3 linked regions of the Homo sapiens genome follow. The protein of the gene in region 3 interacts with the protein of the main gene of each other region in a pairwise test. Each region holds a gene or a part of one and is shown on either strand. Other genes may lie near its edges.

Region 1 (7,643 bases), on a different chromosome or scaffold from region 3:
CTCCATCTCAAAAAAAAAAAGAAAAAGAAACTCATGAAACAAACCTGAATAAAGTTGGGGGTGGGGGGAGAATTCACATTCTTTAATGATCCTCATTTAGGCCGCCCAAATTAAATGTCTCAAATTTGTTCATGAGGATCACTTATAAAATAATATACATGGGAGAGAGGCGACAGTGCTTTATCACTGTTCTTAAATGTCCTGGAACTGCATTACTGGTACCTGGGCACCAGATGACGCTGATACAATGAACAATCTTAGTCGATTATTACAAACCCCAAACTCCAGAAATCCTCTGGCTCCAGCCACGGTATTTAGATTTTGTAGGTACTACTGCCTGTTATAATAACTGGTGTTTACCAGTATTACCAAAAAAAAAAAAAAAAAAAAAAAAAGACTAATTTTAGTATTACAAAAAGTCAACATGAGGGAAACTGAGACACAAAAGTTTAACTGGGTTCTGAGATTGCTCAACTAGAAGATCCCAGTGGAAACTGTGAGCCTCAAATCTTGTTCTGATCCACCATGTCAGTCATCAGCCACCCTGCCAGGCACTACAGACTTGCCATGGCACGCATCCCACTGGAGCCAGCCTACTTTCAGGATCCTCTCCAAGCACGCTGCCCCACCTCTAGTGATTCATCTTAGTGCCAGAAGATACACCTATCCCAACTGAGAGGCTGCCATCCAACAACTACCTGAAGCACAAGGCCTCCACAAGAATGAATTCAATCTCCTGGAAAAACTGGCTTTTGTTTGTCAACAATATCTTGTACTTCCAGAGAAGATTAACTTTTATTGGTCAACAGTGACAGCAAAAAGAAAAAAACAGCATTTGGTAAAATATTTGACCAATTTCTTTCCAAAGATTTTTTTTTCTGCAAATGGAATATAAAGATATTTTTTAAGGGTAGAGTTACATAAAACTAATTATTAGCTACATTTGTTTAAAGAAGATGTTATAAGAACAATTTTTTAAAAAAAATGCTCAACAGTCTGAATAAAAGAAACATTTCTCTATTGTAACTTTTTTTTCTGGAGACAGAGTGTTGCTCCCTCGCCCAGGCTGGAGTGCAGTGACGGGATCTCGGATCTCGGCTCACTGCAACCGCCATCTCCTGGGTTCAAGCGATTCTCCTACCTCTGCCTCCTGAGTAGCTGGGATTACAGGCACCTGCCACCATCCCCGGCTAAGTTTTGTATTTTTGGTAGAGACAGGGTTTCATCATGTTGGCCAGGCTGGTCTGAAATCCTGACCTTAAGCGATCTGCCCACTTTGGCCTCCCAAAGTGCTGGGATTACAGGCGTGAGCCACCGTGCCCGGCCACTATTATAACTTGAAAGGAGTAAATTTGTGAAAACCAAATGTGAAACTGACTAATCTTACTATGGGGACTCCAAACAAATTTGAGCAAGAAGCCAAGGTCAGAGTACTCTTTATTTTTGTAGTTATTGCCACTAATTTCGGCCCTAAATGCCAACTCTGAGTGCCAATTACCAATTATCTCCAAATCAAGGGAAACAACTGTCAGTTTGTAAACAAGTTCAGGCCCTACCCTACTTGCCCTAAACGGAAAAGAATGCAAAGCACAGATTTTAAAAGCATGAGTGATTAGCATTGTGAGGCAACCTGGTCAGTAACATTGAGGCCCAAACCAGAAAGCACCCATTATTTGCTCTGCTAAGCATCTAGACCGTGCTTGAGGCCACTTCAAGGATTCCCTGAAGGAATTCAGTGTCAGCAAGGGCCGCCAGACTGGCCAGAGTCCCAAAGTGTTTACACTCCGGTCCATCAGGACTTCTAGGCAGCTGCCTGGCACTGGCACTAACCCCCACCTGGGCTCCCCTACCCAGTGGGGCGGGTGACAGTAGGGATCAGTGCTGAGCCCACGGGCGGGCAGACAGCCGGGCATGACCTTGAGCCAGGCCCCTCCCCTGAGGAGCGGCCAGACCGGGAATAGGAAGGACTGGCAACCGGACCTGGGCGTCCCTCCCCGAGGCGGCCAGGGCTGAACGCTGCCGGCGCCAGGGAGCTCCAAAACCGGGGCGGGGACGGCTGTGCGACCGGTGGCCCCACAGGAACGGCACTGCCCGGAAGGCGACGCTCCCACAACCCTCCCGCCCCCAGCTCTCGGAACCCTCAGCCCCCTCCAGGGGACAGAGACCCCACCACCCAAGTAAAACCTGGAGGGAACGGCGCCGGGATCCCATACCTAGGAGGAGTGGCTGGGCCAGGGCGTGACCCTGGGGGGTAAAAGGTAAAGAGAGGTTTTAGGCCTGATGTCTGGCATCCCACACCTAGGAGGAGTGGCTGGGCCAGGGCGTGACCCTGGGGGGCAAAAGGTAAAGAGAGGTTTTAGGCCTGATGTCTCCACGCGAGAGTGTGACCTCGGGTGGCTGATTAAGGGAGGTGGCTAAGGCATTCTAGAGAACTGACACCCCACTCTTCGGCGTAATGTGGGGGGCTCGCACACTGGGGTCCTGCATTGAGACCAAGGCTCAGGCGGACAGGCGCGGACTGACACCCCCCAATTCCAGGGCGCCAGGCTGCTGGGACCCCGGAAAGTGTGCCGGGGTCCAGCGGGGGCTCGGGCTCCCCAGGACACGGACGTCGGGGTTCCCAGAGGTTCAGCCAGCCCCGAGCCTGTGCTTGGGGAGCTCGCGGGGACTCGGACGCAGGGGTCCCCGGAGGTGGCGGGCTTGGGGCCCGGGGGGAGCAGACGCCCAGGGTTACCCCGAGGGGCTCAGACCGAGGCCGGACGACGGGGCCCCCAGGCTCCTAGCATCGCTCTCCCCAGGGTGGGCCCGGGCCCCCATGTCCAGGCGGAGCCCTAGCGGCGGCCCGCGGGTCCGCGCCGGCCCTGCAGTTCCCGACCCTGGCCCCGCCCGGCACGGAGCCGCTCGGCCCCTACCTGTCGGTGTCCCGGGCCGCCCGCCCCAGCCCGGCGCTGCGCGGCGTTTCCTCCCCGCCGCTCCTCAATGGCGCAGGCCCGCGGCGCTCAGGCCGGCCCCGACCCGACCAATCGAGCGGCCGACGCGCCGGTGCCTGGCCAGCCGAGCGCCGAGTTATCGAGGAGGCGCCCCCTGGCGCCGGCGGCCGCTCCTGCAGTGGTGCGGGCCCCTCCAGGGTTCGCGGACACTGGGGCTTATTTTATAGGTGGGGAAATTGAGTCCCAGGGGAGGGCAGGGCCACAAATGACTCTGGTTCAGACAGCATGGGAACCCAGGATTCTTCCCACCTACAACCACCCTGCCTTCCATCCAAGCGAAAGGTGCGATTGGCCGTCCGTCTGGCCCACTCACCCACAGTCCGTTCCCCACTTCGCAGCCACAGGGGCCTGTTAATTCAGACCCTGCCCTTCCCTGCTTAAAACGGCGTCCCCACCGTACTTCAGTTAAAACCCACCTCCTTACAGAGCTGCCACCAAGGTCCCACTGGATCTGGTCCCTTCCCATTTCAGCCACTTTTTCCCCGGCCGACTCTGCCTCAGCATCCTTCAGTTTCTGCCCCAGGAACTGTACCTTTGCCGTTGTCTCTACCTAGGACCCTTCTCCTCAGACCAATAGAAACACAATGCCAGCCACATAGGCAATCCACATTTACTAGCTAGTACATTTTTTTTAAACGAAAAAGAAGAAAATGAACTTCATTTTAATATATTTAATCCAATATGTTCAAAATATGATCATCTCAACATGTCGCCAAAAGAAAAAATTACTAATACAATATGTTAACTTTTTTATAGTAAGTTTTTGAAATTCGGGTATATTTTACATTTACTGCGCATCTCAGTACAAACTAGCCAGAATTCCAGTGCTCAATACCCTCTTGTGGCCAATCCAGAGCTACAGAATAGCTCTGGATATTCGTATAGCTGACTCCCTCTGGCTTCAAATATTCCACTCAGAGAGGACTTGTGCCTATCTACGGTTCCATTATGAGCTGGGCACAGTGGCTCATGCCTGTAATCCCAGCACTTCAGGAGGCTGAGGCGGGCGGATCACTGAAGTCAGGAGTTTGAGACCAGCCTGGCCAACATAGTGAAACCCCATCTCTACTAAAACTACAAAAATTAGCCGGGCGTGGTAGTGCACACCTGTAGTCCCAGCTACTGGGGAAGCTGAGGCAGGAGAATCACTTGAACCCGGGAGGCGGAGGTTGCAGTCAGCCGAGATCACCCCTCTGCACTCCAGACAGAGTGAGACTCCCTCTCAAAAATGAAAATAAAAATAAAGTTCCATTATCCATTACCCTGTTGTATTTTATTCATGGAACCTAATACTCCCTGAGATTATCTTGTTTGTTTATACATATGTTGTTCTTTCCCCAGTACCTTGAAAACAGAGATTTTATCCCTTTCACAGTGTTTCTTCAACACCTAGACATTGCCTAGCACAGAAAAGACTCAATGAGTGTGTATGAATGAACAGCTGAACACTTCCTCCTTGCATTATCACAAGAAGGGCAAGAGGGAGACCTCAGGCTCATATAAATTAGAAGATGCAGGAAGCAGAACGGCAAGGTTACAATCATGTATTTACCATAATAATTACCAACCCTCATGATGCTAAGCTAATGAGGGTGCATGTTGGGCTGACTCACTCCTGAGCAAGACTGGGGTTCCTGTATGGTGGGATCAACCTCTCAGAATCTGGATGCTGGGTCTCCTCTGGGGCTGAGGTTTGGGAGTAAAACCTGGAACTCCACAGACAGAAGGAGGAAGGAAGGCAGTCCTTCAGAGGTGAAGGACCTCGAAGTCCAGATCACCTAGCACAGACAATTGGCTGTACCTGGGAAGCTTGTTAGAAATGCACATGGCCCAGGCCAGGCGCGGTGGCTCATGCCTGTAATCTCAGCACTTTGGGAGGCAGATGTGGGTGGATCACCTGAGGTCAGGAGTTCAGGACCAGCCTGACCAACTTGGCAAAACCCCATCTCTACTAAAAATACAAAAATTAGCCGGGCATGGTCACAGGTGCCTGTAATCCCAGCTACTCTCCTGGCTAAGGCAGGAGAATTGCTTGAACCCAGGAGGCAGAGGTTGCAGTGAGCCGAGATCTCGCCATTGCACTCCAGCCTCGGCAACAGAGCAAGACTCCATCTCAAAAAAAATCCAAAAAAATACTGCACATGGCCTGGCACCGTGGCTCACACCAGTAATCCTAGCACTTTGGGAGGCCAAGGCAGTGGGGGGGATTTTTTGAGGCCAGGAATTCAAGACCAGCCTGTGCAACATAAGGAGACCCCAATCTCTACAAAAAATTATAAATGAAAAAATTAGCTGGGCACGGTGGCACATGCCTGTACTCCCAACTACTGGGAGGAGGATTGCTTGAGCCCATGAGTTCAAGGTTACAGTGAGCAATGATCATGCCTGTGCACTCCAACCTGCGCAACAGAGACCCTGTCTCAAAAATGCAAATTCCTGGGCACCATTGATTCGACCAGTATTACTGAAAGTCTTCGTGCCCCCAGTTTCCTATAAATGTTTAAATATACATTTACCATACAGCAATCCCACTGCTAGATATTAGCCAAGAGAAATTAAAACATATGCCCACACCAAGACTTATACATGAACACTCATAGCAGCTTTATTCATAAAAGCCAGAAACAAAAAAAAACAATCAAAATGTCCATCAACAGGAGAGTGGACAAACAAATTGCAACATAGTCATACAATGGAGCACTACTCACCAACAAAAAGGTGAGTAGGGCTGACGCAGGCACGATCTGGAGGAACCTCAAAAGTATTAGCTATGTGGAAAAAGACCACATACCGTAGTGATTTCATTTCTGTGAAATTCCAGAAAAGACAAAACTGTCAGAGGAACTACAGGCTACAGATGCACTACCACACCCAGCTGATTTGGGGGGTTTTGTTTGTTTGTTTGTTTGTTTGTTTGAGACAATCTTACTCTGTCGCCCAGGCTGGAGTGCAGTGGCACAATCTCGGCTCACTGCAGCCTCTGCCTCCCAGGTTCAAGTGATTCTCATGCCTCAGCCTCCCGAGTAGCTGGGATTCCCGACGTGCACCACCACGCCCGGCTAATTTTTGTATTTTTAGTAGAGATGGGGTTTTGCCATGTTGTCCAGGCTGGTCTTGAACCCCTGAGCTCAAGCATTCCTCCCACCTTGGCCTCCCGAAGTGCTGGGATTACAGGCAGGAGACACTGCTCACAGCTTTTTTCAAAAATTTAATTGACAAATAATTGTATATATTTATGGGCTACAGTGCACTGTTTTGATATCTATTTACAATGTGGAATGATTAATTCACACTAATGAACAAATCCATCAGCTAACATACTTTTTTGGATGAAAACTTTTTTTTTTTTTTTGAGACGGAGTCTCGCTCTTTCGCCCAGGCTGGACTGCAGTGGCGCTGTCTTGGCTCACTGCAAGCTCCGCCTCCCGGGTTCACGCCATTCTCCTGCCTCAGCCTCCCGGGTAGCTGGGACTACAGGCGCCCGCTACCATGCCCGGCTAATTTTTTTTGTATTTTTAGTAGAGACGGGGTTTCACCGTGTTAGCCAGGATGGTCTCGATCTCCTGACCTCGTGATCCGCCCGCCTCAGCCTCCCAAAGTGCTGGGATTACAGGCGTGAGCCACCGCGCCCGGCCAGATGAAAGCATTTAAAACCTACTCTTTTAGCAATTCTGAAATATGCAATGTATTATTTCTTATAGTCACCATTCTGAGCAATAGATCACTATAGCTTCTTTCTCTTGTTTAACTGAAACTTCGTACTCTTTGTTTTGTTTCTTTTTTTTTTTTTTGAGACGGAGTCTCTCTCTGTCACCCAGTTGCCCAGGCTGGAGTGCAGTGGCGCGATCTCAGCTCACTGCAACCTCTGCCTCCCAGGTTCAAGTGATTATCCTGCCTCAGCCTCCCCAGTAGTTGAGATTACAGATATGTACCACCACGCCTGGCAAATTTTTGTACTTTTAGTAGAGACGGTGTTTCATCATGTTGGCCAGGCTGGTCTCAAACTCCTAGCCTCAAGTAATCCACCCACCTCGGCCTCCCAAAGTGCTGGGATGACAGGCGTGACCACCATACCTGGCCCAAACTTTATACTCTTTGGTCAACATCCCCAAGTTCCCAACCCAAGAGTTCCTGGGACCACCAGGATCTCCAGAGAGATAAGAGTGTCTTTTCGTAGGTTCCTGAGACGACTGGTGGCTGAAAGTCCCTAGACAGCTTCAGAATGGGGCTGGTTTCCAGAGGGAGCAACCATGTTATTAGAGAGAGGGTGGGCCTATCTCACGCAAAAACACACACTCTTTGACCGCCTCCGACCTGCGGGGAGGATTGGAGATTGAGTTCAATCACCAATGGCCAATTATTCAGTCAATCATGCCCACGTAAAAACCCTAAAGGTGGTCGGGCACAGTGGCTCACGCCTGTAATCCCAGCACTTTGGGAGGCCGAGACAGGTGCATCACAAGGTCAGGAGATCAAGACCATCCTGGCCAACATGGTGAAACCCTGTCTCTACTAAAAATACAAAAAATTTAGCCGAGCATGGTAGCGGGCGCCTGTAGTCCCAGCTACTTGGGAGGCTGAGGCAGGAGAATGGTGTGAACCTGGGAGGCAGAGCTTGCAGTGAGCTGAGATCAGGCCACTGCACTCCCGCCT
Region 2 (7,022 bases), on a different chromosome or scaffold from region 3:
CTATGTTACTGCCTTCTCCACCCCAGACCGCAGACTTCAAAAAAGAGGCCAGCTCTGGCCCTCTCCCCGTTAGAGGATGGGGCTGGAGCAGATCGGGGATGCCCTACAGGGGCATCTTAGGCAAGGAAGATGCTGGGTGGGGCCAGCAACGGGCTGGGTGTGGCTGTACCTTCAGTACAGCTGGGAGCATCCCTGAGCTCAGAGCTTGTCTGCTCTTCCTCCCGCAGGCCCCTCCAGCCACCTCCTTGCTCAAGCTGCTTTCTAGATCTCGGCCACTGCCCTAGCAAGATGCCAGCCCCACCTGATGTTGATGAAGCTGCCTGAGGACATGTGCACATGCTCAGCCAGGATCTCCAGCAGCTTCACTCCTGCAGCCAGGCTCAGGGGCCTGGAGATGGGAGAAGGCAGAGGAAGGAAAGTGGGGCAACCCTCTCAGTCACTTTCTTAAAACAGGCCACTCCAGGGGTACAGAGCAGCCTGCCAATTCCCTGTCCCTGCACGTCTGGATTTCTGCCCTCTGCTTCTGGCCAGGCAGGCCAGCCCAAATCCTAGCAGACCAGAAAGCTTCCCAGGATGCAGCCCTTACTTCTGATCAGTGACGATGTAGCCATATTCCTCTGCTGCTGGGCGGGCTGAGGGCTGTCCTGCCACCGTGGGCTGGCTCTGGCCCAGTGGGCTTTTCTTCTCTAGCAGGACAGGTGTCACAGGGGGTCTGGCAGCTTTGGGAGGCTCAGAGGAGACAGGGCTTGGCACCTGCTGGACTTCACTGGAGGTAGGGCTGGCAGTGGGGTGTCCAGGCATGGGGGATGTGCGGGCTGGAAGCTCTGCTGTGTCTCTGCCCTCCACCGGCCCCTCCATTGTCTGTTCAGAAGAGGGTGGAGGTGTGGCCTCTGGACAGTGCTGGGGGAAGGGGTACCCTGGACTCGGAGCTCTCCACAGTGGAGCTCAGGACCTGCTTTTCACTTTCTACCCCCAGGGACCACTGCAGTGCTGGGTACAGAGAGGACACCAGAGCATCTGAGACAAGTAAGTGGATGCATGAATGAATAAAGGATTGAATGATTGAAAATGGTCTGTACTAATCCACAGAATGGGGCTGGAGACAGAAAACCCCTGCAGCAAGAGAAGCTGGGGTGAGGGTAAAAGACAAACAGGCAGGCGATGGTTTCTAGACTTTTGTTTAGCCACAAAGTCTTAGAAATCCAACACATGAAACAGAAAGAAGCAGAGCTCCTCCTGCTACAGAAGCTCAGGAAGGGCTCTCTGCTCGAAACTTCCCTCCTCCCCTAGGAATCCTCAGAGCATGGTCTGAAATGATTGTAGTGAAAAGAGGAATGAATTAAGAATTCAGTTTTCTGGCTCCAGTTCTGCCATCAACTTGATGGGAGACCTTAGGCAATAACTTGCGGTCTCTGGGCCTTGGTTTCCCCCAAAATGAGGGGTGGGAGGATACAGATTCTAGGTCCTGAATTTGAAATTTAGGTTTGGCAAGGGGGCGTGCTGCCATGGGGTGATTATGAGTCAAGGAGGTGCTGGGGACTCACTTTCTTGATATCAGCTCCAACATTTACAACCCCTCCTGCGAGACAGGAAAAACAAGAGTCTGGAAAAATGGCCATGGCCAAGGTCTACACAACACAAGTGGGAGAAAGGGCCAGAGACCCTGAGCCTGGAACATTTGCTGTGGTCTTCATCTCAGTCAGTGACCAAGACCCTGTTACTGGTCTCATCCTAAGCCTGGCCTCATTCCTTTTTGCTTCCTCCTCCCAATTTACTGTTTTATTAACTCCTCCCTCTACCATTGGCCATCTCTCTCAAAGCTATTCTTTGTTCAGTTATTTCTCTACCCATCAATTACTGGCTTCTTCTTAGTACTGGCTATGCCCGTTTTTAGGCCCTCATTGTCACCAACCCATCCTTCCCGATGCCTCCTTTTCCCTGCTCACACCCTCTGTTGGCTGCTTTTTCCATTACTTCCACCATCTAGTCTTTTCCTGATCTAACTCCTAAGCTTGCCACCCTACCCCCTTGCTCCCTGCCTTGCTGGCAATGACCCTATGTCTCAAAGGAACTCTTTCCCCTGAAGCCTGACTCTTCCTCTCCAGGCTACTCCAAGTGGTCTCGAGGCAGGGCAAGAGGCCTCCATGGAGCCGGGAGATATTGGTCCCTCCCTCTGCCTGGACACTTACCCGGATTTCTTCCTGCACCCTTGGGCAGTAGCTGCAGCAGGGTCAGGAGTGTGGAGAGCTGCTCAGGGGTCAGCTGACGCAGCTCTACCCCATAGCCCGCCAGCACAGCGGCCAGCCTCTGCAGAGCCGCATCTGCTGGGAGCCAGACACAGAGCTTAGGGCTGATTGCGCAGTGAACTTGAGGGATGCAGATGAGTGAGTGAGGGTGGGAAGGGACTAGCATGTTAAGAGAGTCTTCCCAGACACCAGGACACCAAGAGATGCCCTCCCTTTCCCAGCCCTTGTCCACACTTTGGGGGAAAGTTCTTCCTGGGACCCAGATCAAACTTCAGGACATCTTGACTCTCCACTGGAAGGAGAGTCACGTCAACTCCACTCCCCACCACTTCCCTAGTGCCTGGCATAGAACAGCTTGTCAGTAGACATTCCTTAAATGTATGAATGACTTTAAGGACAAGTTAACAAACGCATAGATTGTCAGGGAAGGGCCCCACCATGGTTCCCCCAAAGCAGCCCTCACAGGGAGGTGGATGCTGAGGACCTTGTTACCTGGCTGCACAGCTGGGGAAGCAGGCTTCTCTCCACGATCCCCTAGTCCTTCCTTCTCATAGCCCTCTGGGGAGTCCTCTGCCCGGCTGCTGCTCCCTTGCTCTGGCAGCCTTGGCACCCTGGCCCTGCTGGGTGCTGGCAACTCCTGGGCCAGATAGAGCAGCCCAGAGTCTTGAAAAAGCTGGGCAGGTGAAGGCCCTGGAAGGTCCCCGTAGGAGTGGCCAGGGTGGTCCCCAAATATGCCCTTGGAGGCAGTTCTGCTGAAGAGGGCAGGGGCTTCAGCCTTGGGCAGGGGGCCGACACTGACCATCCCTGGGGAGCCCTCTGAGACCCTGGAGCCATCACGGGAGCCAAACTGTGGAAAACCAGAGATCTGGGTAAGAGCAGAAGTCCGGGCTGAGGGACTGCGGTTGGGGTGGGACCAGAGTCAAGGACTTACCTGGTGGAACAGGTAGGGCTGCAGCAAGGCAGGTTCGTAACTCAGTGAAGGGTGGGGAGGCTGTGGGGGCAGCAGCAGGTGCTCCAAGAGAGGCGGGAGCAGCTCAGCCTGCAGAGGGGACAGAGAGGAGCTGGCCCCAGCTCCACCTTTGCCCACTGGTGGTTGTGGAAGCCGATGCTGGGCAGCAGGGGCGGAGCCAGTGGGGATGTCCTGTAAAAGCAGCTCTCCAGCAGGACCAGGTCTCTTGGGTGCCAAGCCAGACCTGTAGAGGAAAGCAAAGTGTGTGTGTTGGAGCGGGGGAAAGGGCATAGAGAGCCTGCAAGGCAGAACTATTCGGGGCCAGGCAGGCTCAGCGGTTAAGAGCAGGCCTGACCTCTTTAGAAACTGAGTGACCTCAGGGGAAGAGAGATGGGCTGGGTGGGAATGGGGAGGGACCAGAGGGCCAAGCTGAGGGCAGAGGTATCTGCCTCCCTGGTGAGCATGGCTGAGTCTCTGAAACAACTGCAAAGGCTGGGTAATCATGAGGCTGGGGATGGAGAAGGGGCAAACAGGAGCAGGGGAAGGCAACCAGGAATTTCTCTAGATGAACTGTGGCTGCAGCTGTCCCCGTTGCCCCTGTGTGCCATGTCCCCACACCTGGCTCTCCAAGTATATGTCCAAATATTCAGGACTGCTCCTCCACCCCCCACCACTATGCCATCTTCATCCTGGTATCATCATCTGAGCTCCCTAAACCTCATTTACTTTCCTCTGCTTTGCAGTCTGAATGATGCCTTTAGAGGCCCTAACCACAAAAAGATGATGGTGGCTCCTGTCATATAGAAATTCACATAGTAATGAAATGGAATATTGAACAACTTCAGTCCAACAGCATTCTAATTTCTCCCATGATGACTACATTGATGCTTCTTTTAAAGTAGCCAATGTCAATGTTTTTCAAAACATTCAAAAAATGCCCGTTTTTCTGGATCCCTAGAGATGAGCTCAGCTCCTCTTGGTCATGTGAGCATGTCAGAGAGTGACCATTCCTGCACCTCTTTACCTGTGCCCCAGCATGCTGGCCTTGGTGCCCACTTCCTTCCCCTTCTCTCCATCAATTAGGACAACCACAGATTCATCAGCCTCACCATTGCTAGAGTTGTAGAGAAAGGCTGCCTACCTGTCCCTTGGACGGGGCTCTGGGGGGCGAAGCCTGGGGATGCGCTCCATCTCCTGAGAGATCACATACTGGGTGAGGTCATCGTGCCAGGACAATCCTGTCAGGAAAGAGGACAGCGTAAGTTGGTTCAGGAGTCTGGGGATCCAGTAACGGGGACCACTGGGGATCAGAACTGTACCCTCTGCCCTGCAGCTCATGGGGTTTGTCAGAGTAGAGGGACAAACTCAGTGGGTGATCTGAGCTGTCTTCTTCCCACCCTCAGGTACAGCTATTGGAGCCAGACCACCTGGGTTTGAATCCTGCCTTTGCTACTGATGAATTATGTAACCTTGGGCAAGTTGCTGAACCTCTCCAAGCCTCAATTCCCTCATCAATAAAATGGGGATTTATACCTCCTAGGATTGTTATTATCATTAAAATAACACATATACATATCAAACGGTTAGAATAGTGCCTGTCATGTAGTGAACTTTTAACAAATGCTATTACCATAATTATTATTACTATTGTTATTATTCTTTGTGTTGACCCTGAACCTCAACTTTCTCTGTTTGTAAAGTGGAAACGATACATATTTCAGGGGGCTGTTGTGAAGATCAAGTGTGATCAGGGAAATCAAAGTGCTTAGAAAACTCTAAAGCATAATCCACATGTTTTAAACATGTATCATCATCTTCATTGTCGTCATCATCATCATCATCACCATTATCATCATCATCTTATTCATAGACAGCTCTCCTGTTTGACTCTTTCCCCCAAAAAAACTCTGCTCTCAGGAAAGTTCAGTCACTTATTCTAAAGGAATAATTTCCCACTTTTCACCCTCATTTTTTCTTCTCTAGTTCTGGATTTAAAATCTGTGCTGCTCTTAACTTGTATTCTGGTATCTACCAACATCCACACCTGCCTCCTTGCTTATTCACATTAGATGAGCTGTCTGTGTTCCTATTTAAAGCCAGTTCCTCTGAGCACTAGATTTCATCCCCTCTCACCTATTCAGGAACATTCTCCTTGCAATTCTCTCTTCTTTCCTACATAATTTCCTTTGTTCTCTACTGAATTATTCACATTATTCCCATGCAAACAATATGCAATTTCTTCCATCTTAAGAAAAATACTGCTTGATCCCACTTTCTTCTCTAGGGATCACTCCATATCTTTGCAGCAAGACTTCTAGAAAAAGTTGTCTATACTGACTGTATCCAATTCCTTTCTTTCTATTCCCTCTTAATCCACTTTATTCAGGATTTTATTCCCAACTATTCTACCAAAGCTGCTCTCATCAAGAGCAGCTTTGTCTGCATGTCCAAATCTAGTGGTCAATTTTCATATCTTATTTTACTTATCCCGTAATCATCATTTGACACTGTTGGTCACTCCTCCTCCTTGATACACTTTCTCCTGGCTTCTGGGACACTGAACACTGTTGTTTTTAATCCTACTCCACTGGCTTCCCCTTCTCAGTCTCCCTGAGAGGAAGTTGATGGTTCCTCTCTTTATCCTGGTCCTCATTTTTTTTTTTTTTTGAGATGGAGTCTCGCTCTATCACCCAGGCTGGAGTGCAGTGGTGCGATCTCGGCTCACCACAACCTCTGCCTCTCAGGTTCAAGTGATTCTCCTGCCTCAGCCTCCTGAGTAGCTGGGATTACAGGTGCTCGCCACCATGCCTGGCTAATTTTTGTATTTTTTGTAGAGACAAGGTTTCACCATGTTGGTCAGGCTGGTCTCGAACTCCTGAGCTCGTGACCTGCCTGCCCCAGCCTCCTAAAGTATTGGGATTATAGGTGTGAGCCACTATACCTGGCCTGGTCCTTTTAATAGAAGAATTATCTAGGACTTGATCCTTGGTCTTCTTAATAGACACTCAATCTTTTGGTTATCTCATCCACCTCATGGGTGTAATTACCATCTATATGCCAAAGAATTCCAAATTTATATCTCCAGGTGAGAACTCTGTCTCTCAGAATCCAGTCTCATGTACTCAACTTCCTGCTTCACTTGAGTAGACATCTTAAACTCAACATATTCAAAGCTGAACACCCCCACCAAGTTGAACCATTTGCAAGTTTCCACATTATAATTAGTGACATCTCCACTGATTCAGTTATTCAGTAAATAAAACCTTTGACTCCTGGCTGAGCGCGGTTGCTCACACCTGTAATCCCAGTACTTTGGGAGGCCCAGGCAGATGGATCACTTGAGGTTAGGAGCTCAAGACCAGCCTGGACAACATGGTGAAACCCTGTCTCTATTAAAAATACAAAAATTAGCCAGGCATGGTGGCGCGCACATGTAATGTCAGCTACTCGGGAGGCTGAGGCAGGAGAATCACTTGAACCTGGGAGGTGGAGGTTCCAGTGAGCAAGAGATTGCATCACTGCACTCCAGCCTGGGTGACACAGCAAGACTCTGTCTCAAACAACAACAACAACAATCAACAAACAAAATAAACCCAAAAAAACTTTGACTCCTCTCTTTATAACCATATCCAATATTTCACGAAATAATGCTGACTACCTTAAAAATAAATGCAGAATTCTCTCATCCTTCATTCCTTCCCTGCAATCACCTTGGCCCCATCCACATTCATCTCTTATCTGAGTTATTGTGGTAGTTTTTGTTTGTTTGTTTTAGTAAAGTGAAAGCAGTTTATTAGAGAAGTGAAGAAACAAAAGAATGGCACTCC
Region 3 (7,022 bases):
AACTCCCGACCTCAGGTGACCCACCCGCCTCGGCCTCCCAAAGTGCTGGGATTACAAGCATGAGCCACTGTGCCCGGCTGTCTGACTGTTCTATTTTAACTTAAAGAAGTATTCTGAGACAGCATATTTAATACTTGCAAATTTCAACAAGGTTGTCACAAACCTGGGAACTAGACGTCAGGCTCACACCACTGTCTGCGCTGATCTGGGACTTTTTCTCCTCTGTCTCACCAAGGTCAAAGACAGGTTTGATTACTTCAGGCCCTGAGTAGGGGAAGACTTCTGTTACTCCGTGCACAAAGGCTAGGGGCAGGCTGGTAAAGGGGGTGGGACGGCAGCACAGGCTGTTCCCAGACCCGTTCAGCCCATCCTAGTCACCTTTCCAAGGACTACCCCCCACTCAGGACCCACTGGAAAAAGAGGACCCCAGATGCCTTAAGAACCAAGTAGGACAAATCAGACCTGGTCTCAATGGGTTCTCCAGCCATCTTCTCAACCTGAGAAAATTCTGAGCAAATCATCTTAAAACAGAGAAGCTCCACAAGGCTGGGCATGGTGGCTCACGACTGTAATCCCAGCACTTTGGGAGGCTGAGGCAGGTAGATCACCTGAAGTCAGGAGTTTGAGACCAGCCTGGCCAACATGATGAAACCCTGTCTCTACCAAAAAATACAAAAATTAGCCGGGCGTGGTGATGCACACCTGTAATCTCAGCTACTCGGGAGGTTGAGGCACGACAATTGCTTGAGCCCTGGAGGCAGAGGTTGCAGTGAGGCAAGATCGTACCACTGCACTCCAGCCTGAGCAGCAGAGCAAGACTCCATCTCAAAAAAAAAAAAAAAGAAAAGCTCCACGAACAAATGTCTAAACCACATTCCATGGCACTCAAGAGTCTGAGCTTCACTGGTACCTGAAACCATTTAATGGTCCCCAGGTCCCTTAATGCTTCCCAAACAAATGTGTCTAAAGGAGGTAGAAAAGGTTGGGCCCGATGAGATAAGAAACACCAGCTGTTTTGGTGGGCACTGCCTACCTCCATCCTACAACTTCTATGTTTGAGATGAAAACCACCCCCCTTGTCCCCCACCCACCCACAATGGTATGGCAGAAAGACAGAATGACAGAAAGCAAGAAAGCGTGCCTAGGCAAGCCACCAGAGAGTGGGGCAGCTACAGACTCAACATGGAGGGACAGCAACCATCTCTGCCAACTGTGCCCACAGGCCTTCTAACAGGTGTGGGAGATATCAGCCAATGGGGGGCACTAAAATAGGCAAACATTCTCCCCACCAACTCTGAAGCAACAGAGAACCAAGTTCTGGGGAGTTGTATTCAGTAGACACCTGGTTATAGCCTGATTGACACGAGGGGAGGGGGAAAGAAGCGGCCTACACACACCTAGGAGTCACATGCTACCTACCTGCTGCCATTCCAAACACGCTCTAAGAGCAAATTTGGGGTGGGGCTGACAAAGGGAGCCTGCCCCAACTGGGCCTGGGGAGTTGGCAGGTATGGAGGACTTGGGAACAGGAAAGGGCATTTGTTCCTTACTCTGTTTTTCCAAAGCTTTTTGCTTTTTCACTTCCTGGTGCTTGTTCCACAATTCTACCCCAGATGCAATGCAAGCAGGAGAGAAAGACAGAAAGTCAGAGGCTGGTCAGACAGACGAAATGGAAACCCACCCACCCAAGTCGATTCAGTCTCAGGCACTGGATTACCAACCAAGAGATACAAAGATATCTTCATGGGGAGAAGGGGCAGAAAACAAGAGATCTAACCCCTCCACCCAAACTCATGAACAGATTCCAAATTTCTAATTCCAATCCCAATGTGGCAGTAAAAACCCTGCAGAATGTTAGAGCTGGAAGTGCCCTTAACAAAGCTCCTTCATTTTTGCATGAGGAACTGGTCCTAAAGAGGCTGGAGCACTTGATCAAGATCATGTAACTTAGGATCCATTTAAACTCCCACCATGCCACACACTCTCTCTACCAAATGAGCTGGGGAAGGGCAATTTTTCAGATTCCAGATGAGACAGATGAACACCTCAAGCAGCCAGAGTTTCAGAAGGAAGAACACCAATCTTTGCTTGATTCACTGGACTGAACAAAGGCCAATTCATGCAGGCAGTTAGCATCCCTCCTCATTGCTCCTCAAGAAACCAACTCACCCCTACCTGCCCTACCCACCAGTGATCTGGAAAAATGCCTCCAGTTGAGGTGACAGAGAACATAAAATGGTCAAGACCAGCATCTTCATAGGGAAAAGCAGACAGAATGGCAACCACAGCAATTCTTTTCCTGGAAGGAACTTCAGAGTGTACTTAGTATGATTTCCTCATTTCCCAGATGAAGAGACAGATACCCTGAGAGGTGAAGTTATTTGCCCAAAGTTGCATTCCTAGTTGGAGGCTGATATGGGACTAAAACTCCAGATCTCCAGACTAGCAGGTCAGTACATTTTCTACAACATCACATGAGGCAGGAGAAAGCCAGGAGTTGACTGCTACTAGAATAATATTCTGCTGGCTAGGGAAGTGTAGCTCCCCTAAAAAGGAATCTGGTTCCATGTCACCATTTATGGGAGCATATGGCAACTGCTAATGGCCATGGCAATGAGATGTCAGCTGGAAGCAGAGTGCCTAGGGACCTAGAACCAGAAAAAGAAAGATCCAACCTCGATGACTCAAGGTCAAGCAGGGAGTGAGCCAAACAGAGGTGATGCCTAGAAAGCTCACTAAGGCACTGCCTTTGTGGGAACGGAGAAACACCAAATGTAAACGAGATTATAATCAAGTCCAGTGAAGAAGCATTTAAAGAACTGACTTGGAAACCTATACCTCAAAGATCCAGAACCCAGGGAAATGGGGTTGCCAGGCATGCCCCAGAGGAGCACATTCCAGAGGAGTATAATGGTTGGATGGGAGGACACTGGCTTCAGAGACACAAATGTCATAATTTTATAGCCCAAAAATGCATCTATAAACTTCCTGAGCACTTCCAGGAATTCTCTCCACTATGTGAAGAAATGCAGACGTAAATAAAAGGAGGGGCCAGGAGTACAGCTCACACCCCCTGCAGTAAGCCTCATTGGGCCCTCTAAACAAAACTTACCATTCTTCATCTAAGATACGGGGTGGGGGGTGGCTGTGGATGAAGCATAAAGACTAGAGAAGTACAAAGAAACACCACCAGAAATGGACACAGGCCCCCTTCCCTCTCTAAGAAGCAAAGCATGGGGCAGAGAAAGGCAGGATTCTGGATGAATTGAGGAGAAAGGGATATTTAAGAAGCCAGGACCCCTCCACCACACCAAACACACTGATACGTACCAATAGATGCTATAAAATTTTCTTCCTTTAAACTTCTGGTGTCCAGTTCCTTAGGACCCTTTCCTGTGGCACTTGGTGCCCGAGGTCCCAGTTGTGGAACTCTCAGTTGTGCCATAGCCTTTGGGTCCCCCCGCCCAGCTAGGCCAGGATCCTTGCCAACTGGGGTATTTACACTTTCTGTTGGACTTCTCTTCCGCTTGTCTGGTTCTGAGGGAAAAATATCAAGAGGTCAAGAGAAGTAGTGAGTAGGAATCAAGGCGCAGATATGAGGTGGGAGGAGCCAGGATACAGGAGGGTGCGGAATGGAAGAAGTTCAAGGAAAGATGAGCTGATGTCTTATTTTTCGTAACAAAGAATACCCACTGCGTATAAACATGCATTAGAAAATAAAATCCCAAAGCCTAATGGGAAGCAGCGTGGCACTGGGAAACGTGTCCTGGGTACACATATATTTTCTCTTCAGGAGACAAGTGGCAGAGTTAGGGATGGCGTGGTGCCCAGCAAGTACGATCCCTACCTTTACTATAGTAGTGGGTCTGGGCAATCTCCAAAAGCCCAAAGATGCTGGCCATGCCACCCAGACCCGCGTGGGCATAGGACTGCTCCAAGCTGAGGACTGTACACTTGAGGAGGTCTAACATTCCCTTGTACACCTTCCGACTGATCTCCTGCAACAATAACCCAGGGGCTAGCGTTGGCAAATTGCCTGTGGTGTTCACATCCCTCTCTCCAGTTACTCCGATTCCCTACCCCCAACACTGACCACATCCGGGATGATGTCCTGCCGGGCATCGTCCTCTGACTGCACCATGCGGTTCAGCTTGCTCAGGACAAAGACTCGCAGCTGCTCGCTCTCCAGCAGCCGGCGCACCTTTTTCATGTTGAGCCAGCCAACTCCCTGGCCGTCCAGCACGCTGTGCACCACCTCCTTCAGGAACTGCTGGTTCTCACTACAGGGTCCACACACCGCTTCTGTGGTCATCAGCTCCTTTGCAGAGCACCCCCCACCTTTCACCCAGACTAGATGTCTGCCTCCAGGGGTAAAACACAAAGCCATGTCTCTGAATGTCCAAGTGCACCACATCCCCACCTCTCTGGAGCACGCGATTTGTCCAAATACCCACCGCTGCTGATTAACCCCCCTCAACACTGTAAGCTTTCAGTTGCATGGAGATCAAGCCAGAATGAGAAGTGCTGGCAAGAAATTGATTACATCTACCCCATTGAGAGCTTCTCTCCCACTCTTGAGCATCCCTAAAGTTCTGTAGAGGAACCACCCCACCTCTGCCTGAGAACTTTTAAAACAGCTCTACCATTTATTACCTAGAATTGCTGGATCGACCCTGGGGTGATGGAGGTTCTCTTTTCACTGTTGGGCTGTGTTTAATGACAGATGACTTCTGATCCACTAACGCCCTCCTGTTTCCTGTGGCAGGGAAGGCAGGAATGAGAGACATCACTATTGTAGTACAGGAGCTCATGCCAGCACAGCCCTAAGTAGCCATGTTCCATGCCCGTTCCTCAGAAGGGCTGGGTGAGGGTAGCACCAAGGCATCATACGTAGGTAGAAACCAGCCATGGCAATGTGGAGGAGGTGGGGATGGAGACTCAGGCCACTCCACATGCACCAGCAGCAAGCCCCATGGGCAAGCATGGGCGTCACGGGGGACGGGGCAAGCAGGTCACTCATGTGACGCTGCTTGCTCCATGAGAAGGATGGCCCTCGGGCAGGCACAGAAGATGCTAGAGAAAAAAAAAAGATCATGCACAGCTCACAGGCAAGACCCACCTTCACCACTCCCGGGGCCGGCTTCAGTAACAATCTCCATTAGAGTATTTAGCCCAAATACTGGGACACAAAATACACAATTAGTAGGTGTACCACAATACCGCAACCCCTCTACCCCTCCGAGGAGCAGTAAGCCAGATAATCTGAGCATTCTCCCAAAGCTTGAGGAATGCACATAACCTTGGTTCTTGGGCACCTCAGAGCTGGAAGCCAAGTGACCAGGAGACAACCAAGGCTCTAAGAAAAGACCACCCTTAAAACTGGCCTCTCAAGCCAGGGGCGGGTAAATGACACAGGGAGCCTTCAGGTACTGAACACACACATGCATGAAACAGGGACCGCTGGTTTTCAGAAAACATCCAGCACAGAGGGCCAGGGGCCTGAGGGTATGTGCAGGGAAGCAACCCATCTTGCAGATGCTGTTGTGGGGAGTGGGGTCAGGGTATGAGGATGGGAGATGGGTGAGAGGGTAAGTGCAGCAAATGCGACAAAGCATCAGCATGCAATGAAAGAGTTTCAATCGCTCTTCTCTTCAAATGTACCAAATGAAGGCCAGTGACACTGACACCCTTCCATCCTTAGCCTACCCGGCCACATGTGGATTCCCTGGCAGTGCTAGTTCGCTCCTTTCACTGCCAGCTCTGATGTCCTTTTGCCCATTTATCCAATGTTCCCATCCTCACCTAAGAACATGTCTTAGACTCCTGACAACTTTGTTTGTTTCTGTTGGCTTCTTTTAGAGACAGGGTTTCACTCTGTCGTCCAGGCTGGAGTGCACTGGCCTAATTATAGCTCACTGTACCTCAAACTCCTGGGCTCAAATGAACCTCCTGCCTCTGCCTAACAAGTAGCTAGGATGACAGGTGTGAGCTACTGCACCCAAGTAACCTGACATTTTTTACCACTAGGAATGAGAGGTCAGTTAAAGAATACATGAGGTTGGCCAGGTGCGGTGGCTCACGCCTGTAATCCCAACCCTTTGGGAGGCCAAGGCGGGTAGATCACAAGGTCAGGAGATCGAGACCATCCTGGCTAACACGGTGAAACCTTGTCTCTACTAAAAATACAAAAAATTAGGCAGGCGTGGTGGCAGGCTCCTATAGTCCCGGCTGCTCAGGAGGCTGAGGCAGAATGGTGTGAACCCGGGAGGCGGAGCTTGCAGTGAGGCAAGATTGCACCACTGCACTCCAGCCTGGGCAACAGAGCGAGACTCTTGTCTCAAAAAAAAAAAAAAAAAAAAAAAAATACATGTTTCTCACTGCACTTCCTACCACAGTTAAATATTTCGTCATACCATCCAGAGAAAACAAAAAAATCAGGCCAGGTGCAGTGGCTCACACCTGTAATCCTGGCACTTTGGGAGGCCAAGGTGGGCAGATCACTCAAGGTCAGGAGTTCAAGACCAGCCTGGCCAACATGGTGAAACCCCGTCTCTACTAAAAATACAACAATTAGCCAGGCGAGGTGGTATGTGCCTATAATTCCAACTACACGGGAGGCTGAAGCATGTGAATCACTTGAGCCTGGATGGCGGCAGTTACAGTGAGCCAAGATCACCACCTTGCACTCCATCCAGCCTGGGTGACGGAGTGACACTGTCTCAGAAAATAAAAAAAATAAAAAATCAAATTCAGAAAAGCCCCTGAAACTGTCAGATAGCACAAACCAATTCAAATAAGGTTTCGTTTTTTGTTTTTTGTTTTTTTAAGACGGAGTCTTGCTCTGTCACCCAGGCTGGAGTGCAGTGGCGCGACCTCGGCTCACTGCAACCTCCGCCTCCTGGATTCAAGCGATTCTCCTGCCTCAGCCTCCCAAGTAGCTGGGATTACAGGTGCGTGACACCAGATGGCTAACTTTTGTATTTTTAGCAGAGACGGCGTTTCGCCATGTTGGTCAGTCTGGT

The links. The genes of interacting proteins can lie anywhere in the genome.
Region 1: the proteins of MADD (region 3) and VPS13D interact in a two-hybrid assay, tested with the Homo sapiens proteins (one study listed by BioGRID and IntAct).
Region 2: the proteins of MADD (region 3) and PTPRN interact in binary tests that used the Homo sapiens proteins (3 or more experiments, as listed by UniProt).

Annotation. Positions count from the first base shown.
Region 1 is NC_000001.11:12,225,390-12,233,032, reverse strand, and holds the start of VPS13D (intermembrane lipid transfer protein VPS13D), read right to left. Parts: upstream 3,004-7,643; 5' UTR 2,913-3,003; intron 1-2,912. UniProt on the Homo sapiens protein: Mediates the transfer of lipids between membranes at organelle contact sites. Functions in promoting mitochondrial clearance by mitochondrial autophagy (mitophagy), also possibly by positively regulating mitochondrial fission.
Region 2 is NC_000002.12:219,299,399-219,306,420, forward strand, and holds part of PTPRN (receptor-type tyrosine-protein phosphatase-like N isoform 1 precursor), read right to left. Parts: intron 4,434-7,022; coding exon 4,337-4,433; intron 3,440-4,336; coding exon 3,178-3,439; intron 3,094-3,177; coding exon 2,739-3,093; intron 2,322-2,738; coding exon 2,190-2,321; intron 1,580-2,189; coding exon 1,545-1,579; intron 862-1,544; coding exon 587-861; intron 389-586; coding exon 302-388; intron 1-301. UniProt on the Homo sapiens protein: Plays a role in vesicle-mediated secretory processes. Required for normal accumulation of secretory vesicles in hippocampus, pituitary and pancreatic islets.
Region 3 is NC_000011.10:47,287,125-47,294,146, reverse strand, and holds part of MADD (MAP kinase-activating death domain protein), read right to left. Parts: intron 5,180-7,022; coding exon 5,120-5,179; intron 4,757-5,119; coding exon 4,654-4,756; intron 4,359-4,653; coding exon of another isoform or gene 4,281-4,358; coding exon 4,094-4,280; intron 3,999-4,093; coding exon 3,848-3,998; intron 3,538-3,847; coding exon 3,331-3,537; intron 1,605-3,330; coding exon 1,551-1,604; intron 658-1,550; exon of another isoform or gene 265-657; coding exon 164-264; intron 1-163. UniProt on the Homo sapiens protein: Guanyl-nucleotide exchange factor that regulates small GTPases of the Rab family. Converts GDP-bound inactive form of RAB27A and RAB27B to the GTP-bound active forms.